Linked DNA regions of Homo sapiens. The gene in region 2 interacts genetically with the main gene of each other region. Each region holds a gene or a part of one and is shown on either strand. Other genes may lie near its edges. The genes, in order: APOOL and FIP1L1.

Region 1 (3,835 bases), on a different chromosome or scaffold from region 2:
TGAAACTGTAATAACTCCCATTTTCGGAAGAAAATCTCGAGGAGGATTCTTCAGATAGACATAAGCATCTCAAGAAATCAGTTAAAAATTAACATGAATAACTGAATTCTACTGGATATTCTATACAGTTATAATGCAGGAAGGTTAAAGAGATTTGCTAAGATAATAATGAGGTTTAAATATTCTTCAAAAGAGCTACATATAATGACAATATGAGTAGCAAGCTAAAAAACTAGATATATTTACTTGTTACAAAATAAAATTTTCCTTCCGTAGCTGATTTAATATTTCTTTTCCTAATGATACTGACGGTTATTACTATAAAGAAATGTAATGCTAGAGGGCACATCTTAATATGGGTTACTATAAGGTAAATTTCTGACTGCGTATGTATTATATCTCTATGATGAACTTCTGCCCTTATCTGTTCAAACACTGGTAGCCTCCAATAAGAAATGAAATAGATACTTTATTAAGGAGTTTTGAATAATAGTTTAAGGATATACACAGCTACTAGACCTTGCTTGCCACTACTCCCTAATAACCTCAGGACAGCCACTGCTGTTGGTTAAAGTCAATCATCAGTGAGCCTAGACAAAAAGTAGATGAAGAGTAGTTCTTGGCTTTCTATATGTTGAATTTGTTTCTGGTTCCAAAAGTACACTTTTCTATCATAGTTAATTATTTAATGGCAATCACATATTTAATCCTATTCCTCATGATTGATGAGGAATATAATTTTGAATTTATTCCTAATACATTAAATAATGACAATTCAAATACAGGTCATCAACTTCATGGAAACATTCAACATTTTAGCTCATCTTTCTATCTCCTATACATATTTATTATGACAACTGGCATAAGCCAAGAATATTACAAAGCTATATCTGTTGCCAAACACCATTAACAAGCTAAAGAGTCAAGTATAATTGCTTTTTAACCATTAGCTTAAATATTCCAGGGTTAGTGATTGCTATAACATTTCCTAGCAATTGACAGCAAAATACAATGTATTTTAACAGCAAGTAGCACTTAAACTAATTAGCAACAATGGAGACATGTTTTTAATTTATGCTTTATGATATATAATATAGACTTTGTAGTTAAAACAGACCTCAGTTTGTATCCTGGCACTACCACTTACAGTTACGTAAGCTCGATAACCTACTTAACCTTCCTAAACCTCAGTTGCCCTCATCTGTAAAATGGGAATAATTATAATACCAATACTAACATAATTGTGACAAAAATTATGTAAAATGCTAAGTACAACACCTTAGCCAATAATAACTGCTGAATAATGAATATTACTGCTTTGCTATTAATCAATAATCAACAAATAATCAATAAATTAATCAATAAATTGCTATAGAGAGTACCTTCTGAGTTGGTAAATGCATGATAATGGGTAACATACCAAGTTTATTTTTCTCACATTTAAACAATGCAATTTAAAAACACAATAAAACATTTCTAATTATCTACTCACCTACCTTTTCCAAATTGTACTGTATCCATTATCCCATTTTTCACAAAGACATAAACACCCTAAGCAAAAAAAAAGGGGGGGAAGACATCTGCATTTTTGAAGCTGTTGATAATGAGATAAAATTGCCTGCATCTCTGAGATTATATTAAAAGGTTGACTTAACATTATGCCCAAATCTAAATCCAGCTTTCCTATGTATTCACTACCAGCTTGTTTTCATTTCCTGCTTTTCATTCTATTTAACATGGATAACATTTATATCATTTTTCTCATATAAATGGATAATGTGCCTATGAAATAATCAGAGCAGAAATGATACTGAAAAAAATATTTATCATCTTATTTTATAATGACCTAGAAAAATAAATGGAATTTAAATAAAGAAGAAGGGAGGTATATTTCAGTTTAGAAGCAACATCTGATTAATAAAGTTGCAATAGCAACAACATAATGATTTGTGGAGGGAAAAAAAGAGCAAAAAGCCTAAAGCAAAGGGCTTCATCTTCCTCCCTTTTCTTAGTGTGCATTAGAATGAGAAAAAAATCTAAATTACCTCAGGACAGAAATCATCCTACATAGACCAGTGTTTATCCTGTTTTTAAATCGGAACATAAATTCTCTAGAAATCAAAACTATGTTAATACATCAGAGGAATTAAAGTTTTAAAGCAAATCTTTAACTTTACCTGTTTCTAACTGATTTATTTTAGTGCAAAAGAGTGTTAAATATATTTATTGAGTGCTAGGTATTACCTCACTTAGATAAGAAAAAAAAGGAAGTCACAAAATGATTTACTCGTGGTCATATTGTACTCTGTTGATGGAACCAGAAAACACAATCCTTCTCTGAACTAGCTGCTATGAAACCATGGGATAAAAACAAGAACAAAAGAGACTTTCAAAGCAGAGAAAACAGATATTATTATATTGGACAGGGAAGAAATAAGTTTTTGTTATAGAGATAGCTTGGTTTTGTAATTTTGTCTTACATATTTTAATGGTTATCAGAGAGATGCAGAGGTTCATCTTGGTTTAAAATTGTACAAATCAGCATAAACGCTAACTGCTATTGAACTACTTTTCTGTAGGGACTGTCTTGAGAATATTTCACCTTCAAAGTTAAAATACCTATTGACCAGTCGATTGGGAATCATTTAACCATTAAGGAAGAAAATTAGTCATCTTTCAAAAAAAATTTTTCTTAGCTCTGCTAAGGAATTCATTTTTACCACATGGGGTCAGTGCTACCTAAATTTCAAAACACTAAGCTAGCAGGAGTAGAAATTGAATTTGCTCTACATGATTCAAGCTTTAATGTGGAACGAATTTGAGTCAGACATAATTTTTAAAGAATGGATTACATTTTTAGGGGAAAATTAGGAAAAAAAATTGTTTACATTTAGGACAAAATGCACTGGAAATTGCCTTTCTTCAACCTATTTGTTTGAGCATATTAATGGAATAAAACATTCTTTTGAATCTTAAATTGGATGACAGTTACAATAGCAATTTAAAGACCTCTCAGGAACATTTTATCTCACTGAAGAAAAATTTCAGAACATTATGGAAAATTACATCTCAGGAGGCTTAAGTCTGAATCATCTAGCTATTGGCACATAGTCATAGGGGCATGATTCAGACCATAATTGGTTAAGGTATTTCCCTCTTAGATCAAACTATTAATAGTGTGTAGTACAACTAGTACCATAAGAATTGTATGACAAACACAAGTTTTCAAAAATAACATCATGTACTTATCAGATATTTGAAATATTATCTGGAATTACCAGAGTTCATTGATTTGGTATTTCACCTAAGCACAAATTATTTTTCATAAGTTCATTAGATTTCTTTTTAAAGATAATGGATAGAAACTAAAAAGAACAATGATTCACCATCAGGCTATATTTGGGGAAAAGTCGCATGGTTACTAGGTTAGAATGATGAAAACACTGGTACCAACATTAAGATACTGACACTGGAGATGCTAACACAATGATGTTTATGTGATGATAATGAAACATTAGTGTTGCATCAGCTTACTCCACCACTCTGCTGATGGATATTGCTGATTGAAGGCTAAGCATTAAAGTCACGTGTATTCTACTTTGCCCAATAGCTTACTGTAGTTAGAATGGTCTTATGAGCTAACGCCAACAAGTAAATAACACTTTACTTAGCCAAAGAAGAAAATATTCAGAAGTAATCTCAGAACTTCACATAAAAAGTGAGTGACACTGTGTACATGCTAGGTGACATAAATCCTTGCTGAACTACTTTAATCTATGCAGTAGTGGTAGAGTAGGTTCAATATAGCCACAAATTATTTGCTGCTACTTCTACT
Region 2 (3,835 bases):
AATGTTAAGTATGTGAGGTGATGAATATATTAACTTGATTTACTACAATGTAGACATAATCAAAACATCACATTGTACCCCATAAACATATACAAGTATTACTGTCAAAAATAAAATTTTTAAAAAGTTTTAAGAATTAAAAAAAGAAAATTATTTCAAATCACTACCTAGTAAAGTTTAAGTAATATTACAAAGGAATCCAACAGAGTACCACAAACATTAATAATTTTTTTAGTATCATTAATCAAATATGTTGAAACATTAATTATTTCTACCTTTTATTTATCTAATTCTTTTTCAGAGGACAAAGGATTCACATAGAAATCACAGAAGTCCTCATTTTGAATCACCTAAGTCCTCTTTCATTTGGTTAATACTCAGCATATTAAAGACACAAGAACCACAAGTCAATCCCAACTAATGAGTCGTTTCTGCTCAATCTATTTGTTGGAACTAGAAATTCACTGAAATTAGAAATACTAATGTTGTCTGGAATAAGGACCTCTAACCTATATTCCAACCTCTTCCTTCCACTATTGTTGAGACAACAGACCCTCTAAAGCCACAAGTCATTTTTTCATATTTTTCTCATACTTTTTGAGAGTAGAGGTGACAGTGGAAGGAAATCAAAGGCACTGAAGATGAAAGACAGAAGCAGTGGCTGACATTTAGAGGCCAAGGATGAATATGTTAGGGAAGGACTATTCAGACCCTGGATTTGGTTCTGTACTCGGATCACAACTGGCACCTTAAAACAAAGACAGCTCTCTTGCAAATAAAAGTGAGTGAGAGTACATGGCTCTCTAGTATAAACTGATTTGATTAATAGGAAGTAAAGCCTAACATACGTCTTTCATGTTGCCCTGATGAGGACAAGCAGCTATTTTTTCATCATTTACTACTAGCTTTCTCCCTGGGAAGAAGTAATTATTATCTCAATCAATCTTGCTAGTTTCATAAAAACTTGGTTAAGGCAGATAAAGGTTAAAAACAAAGTAAGAAAGGCAACCCGATGAAAAATTCAAATAAAAATAAAATTTGGGAATTATTTGTGAGTTTCTTCTCTATCACCACTAACCTGGTTTTTAATTGTAATCAAAAGTAGCTAAAAATATGATCAACATTTACTTTTGTTTAAAAGAAATAAATACCAGGCACCCAGTAGCAGTCTCCTAAAAGGAAACCGGTATACAGAAGAAGACCAGACTGAAATATTAATCAATCTCTTCGCAAGATATAATTTTTTGATCTACTCCCATCCTGAAAGTATCTTTTAATGTTTTTTTCAAAACAAATTAACACTGGTAAAGTTTGTAACTGAGTATGGATTTATACATATTCTATTAGCAACTTAAGTTTGGGGATCATTATCATATTTTTGAATCACAAGATTGGTATCTGTATATTCTTCTTAATTTTAGAACATTGTCTCTTTCCTATATTGAAATAGCAATAAACATATATATATCTGTTTCAGTGTGAATCTGTTGAAGATATTATATCTATTACTTTTAATGAAATGTGATCAAGATATTATTTTAATTGTCAAAAATTTTAAAAAACACTCGCAAGCTATTTTTCTTTCAAAGTCAAATGTCTTATTTACTATTTACCCGGTGGTGGAATCAGAGGTGGAGCAGTGCTGACAGTCGGAGGAGGTGGAAGAAATGGAGGAGGTGGAAGGTGAGTGGGAGGAGCTCCTGGAGGGAAAAACGGAGGTGGTTTGCTAAAATTGTTGTCTACTTCAGTAGCAGATCTTTCAGAAAGGACCTAAAATTAGAGCACAGTTAATTAAACAGATGCATAAATATTATGTAAGATTAATCTTAGTAAATTAATTTCATTTAATCTAAGAAACAAAGTAAAAGGTAGTTTAATTCACATATATGTATTTTTGGGGGGAGAGTAATAGTTCTACATGTGTGATATGTGTATACATACGCCTGTGTGAGTATACACATACATACAGTTTTAAAAATGTGCATATTCAAATCTTAAGAAAAAACAACTGGATCATTACCAAAAATTTCTTAATAAAAAGTAATTAATACAAACACTCCACACAAGAAAAAAGTACTTCATAAAGATCATTTAACAAGTATTATCTTTGTCACCCAACCAAAGTTGAAGTATTCAATTAAGGCAATGTAATCATTAATCACAGACACTGGCCTTAAGAAATTAACATGGCAGCAGGTCAGACATTCACTGTACAAGGGCCTGTCATCACCAGGTTGCAAAGTAAGAAACTGTCAGGCATGTGTCAACAGACTGCAAGCAATAGGCAGCAAGATATGTAAGTAACTTTATCATGTGAGCCTTGTAACTTTAAGACCAGGGTTTATTCTTGAAAAATAAAGCAATGTTTGCAAAATGCTTCTTTGTGTGAACAGGTTAAGGGACAGGCACCATAAGAAGCACCCCAAACCTACTGAAATAAAACAAGCAAAGTGGCACCTCAAAATCTGGATTTTTGATAAGCTCCCCAAGGATGTGTAAATAAATTTGGGAAAGACAGCCAACATAATGTTGTATATTTAATTTATACTTCTCAGATCCTTGCTGACTAAAGCAATCTTTTAAACATACAATCCCTCTTTCCATTAACACTTCCTACATTTAAGTGCAGTGTTTTTTGTAGGGCTTATGCTGATAAGCTATTTCTTAAAGTATTTATTTTGAGAAATCGTGGCATTTTAATGGTAAGGGGAAAGGAAAAATGGACTAACATCTTCCACTATAGAAATGATTTGCCTTTAAAGATGCTAAAAGGAATATTTTACATGATCAACTTATCAAAGGTAAGAATAAAGTGCTCTGGACATTTTTAAAAGGACTCAGAAAATAGGAATAAATAATGAAAAAAAGTATGGCCAAAATGAATAGCTGGAAGTCTCAGTTATTAAAGTTCTAACATTAATTATCCAACTTACTGATAATTTATCTCCCCTCAATTTTTCACCTAAAAACAAAGCAGCTCTACGCCACCTCCAGAAATGTCACATTAAATAAATCATGGTATATTTATCCAATGAAGCTATCATGAAGATATTTTAATCATATTTTAAGAATATGAAAACATACAAATGATAATTTTAGATGGGGAAAAAAGTATACACAGAAATATAATTATAATAGTATCCCAATTTTGCTTAGTATCAAGAGATGTACCAGATGTGGTTATCTTTAGGTGGTAAAATCACTGGTGGTCTTTTATTTTTCATTCAGTAAACCTATATACAAGTTGAGTATTCCTAATCCAAAAATCTGAAATCTGAAATGCTCTAAAATCCGAAACATTTTGAGCATCAACATTTTATCACAAGTGGAAAATTCCACACCCAACCTCACATGTGACGGATCACAATCAAAACTCAGGCCCACTACACAGTTTACTCAGGGTTGCCAAAGGAAAAAAGATTATCATAAATTAACAAATCATTATAACAAATTAAATAACTTATTTATGAAACATAAATTTCATGTTTAGACTTGGGTCTCATCTCTAAGATTACATACGTATGAACATTTCAAAATCCAAACATTTCAAAATCTGATACACTTCTGGTCCCAAGCATTTCAGATAAGAGATACTCAACCTGTACTATGTTTCTACCAAGGAAAAGAAAGAAAACCCTATTAAAAAAAGATTCAGAGATTATAAATTCTAACTGGAAATGCCTTTATAATAAATGACTGGCTTCACATTTTAAATCTCTTTGTATCACCTAAAACACAGCATAGCACTATGACTATCTATTGAATAAATTAAATTATAATGTTGATATCATCCTTCAGTTAAAGAAAATTATTTATTTTAAAATACTAAACCTGT

The links.
Region 1: changes in FIP1L1 (region 2) and APOOL together harm fitness more than expected from each alone (negative genetic interaction), as found in Homo sapiens cells (one large-scale study listed by BioGRID).

What each region holds. Positions count from the first base shown.
Region 1 is NC_000023.11:85,052,060-85,055,894, reverse strand, and holds part of APOOL (MICOS complex subunit MIC27 precursor), read right to left. Parts: intron 1,552-3,835; coding exon 1,497-1,551; intron 69-1,496; coding exon 1-68. UniProt on the Homo sapiens protein: Component of the MICOS complex, a large protein complex of the mitochondrial inner membrane that plays crucial roles in the maintenance of crista junctions, inner membrane architecture, and formation of contact sites to the outer membrane.
Region 2 is NC_000004.12:53,425,962-53,429,796, reverse strand, and holds part of FIP1L1 (pre-mRNA 3'-end-processing factor FIP1), read right to left. Parts: coding exon 3,832-3,835; intron 1,771-3,831; coding exon 1,614-1,770; intron 1-1,613.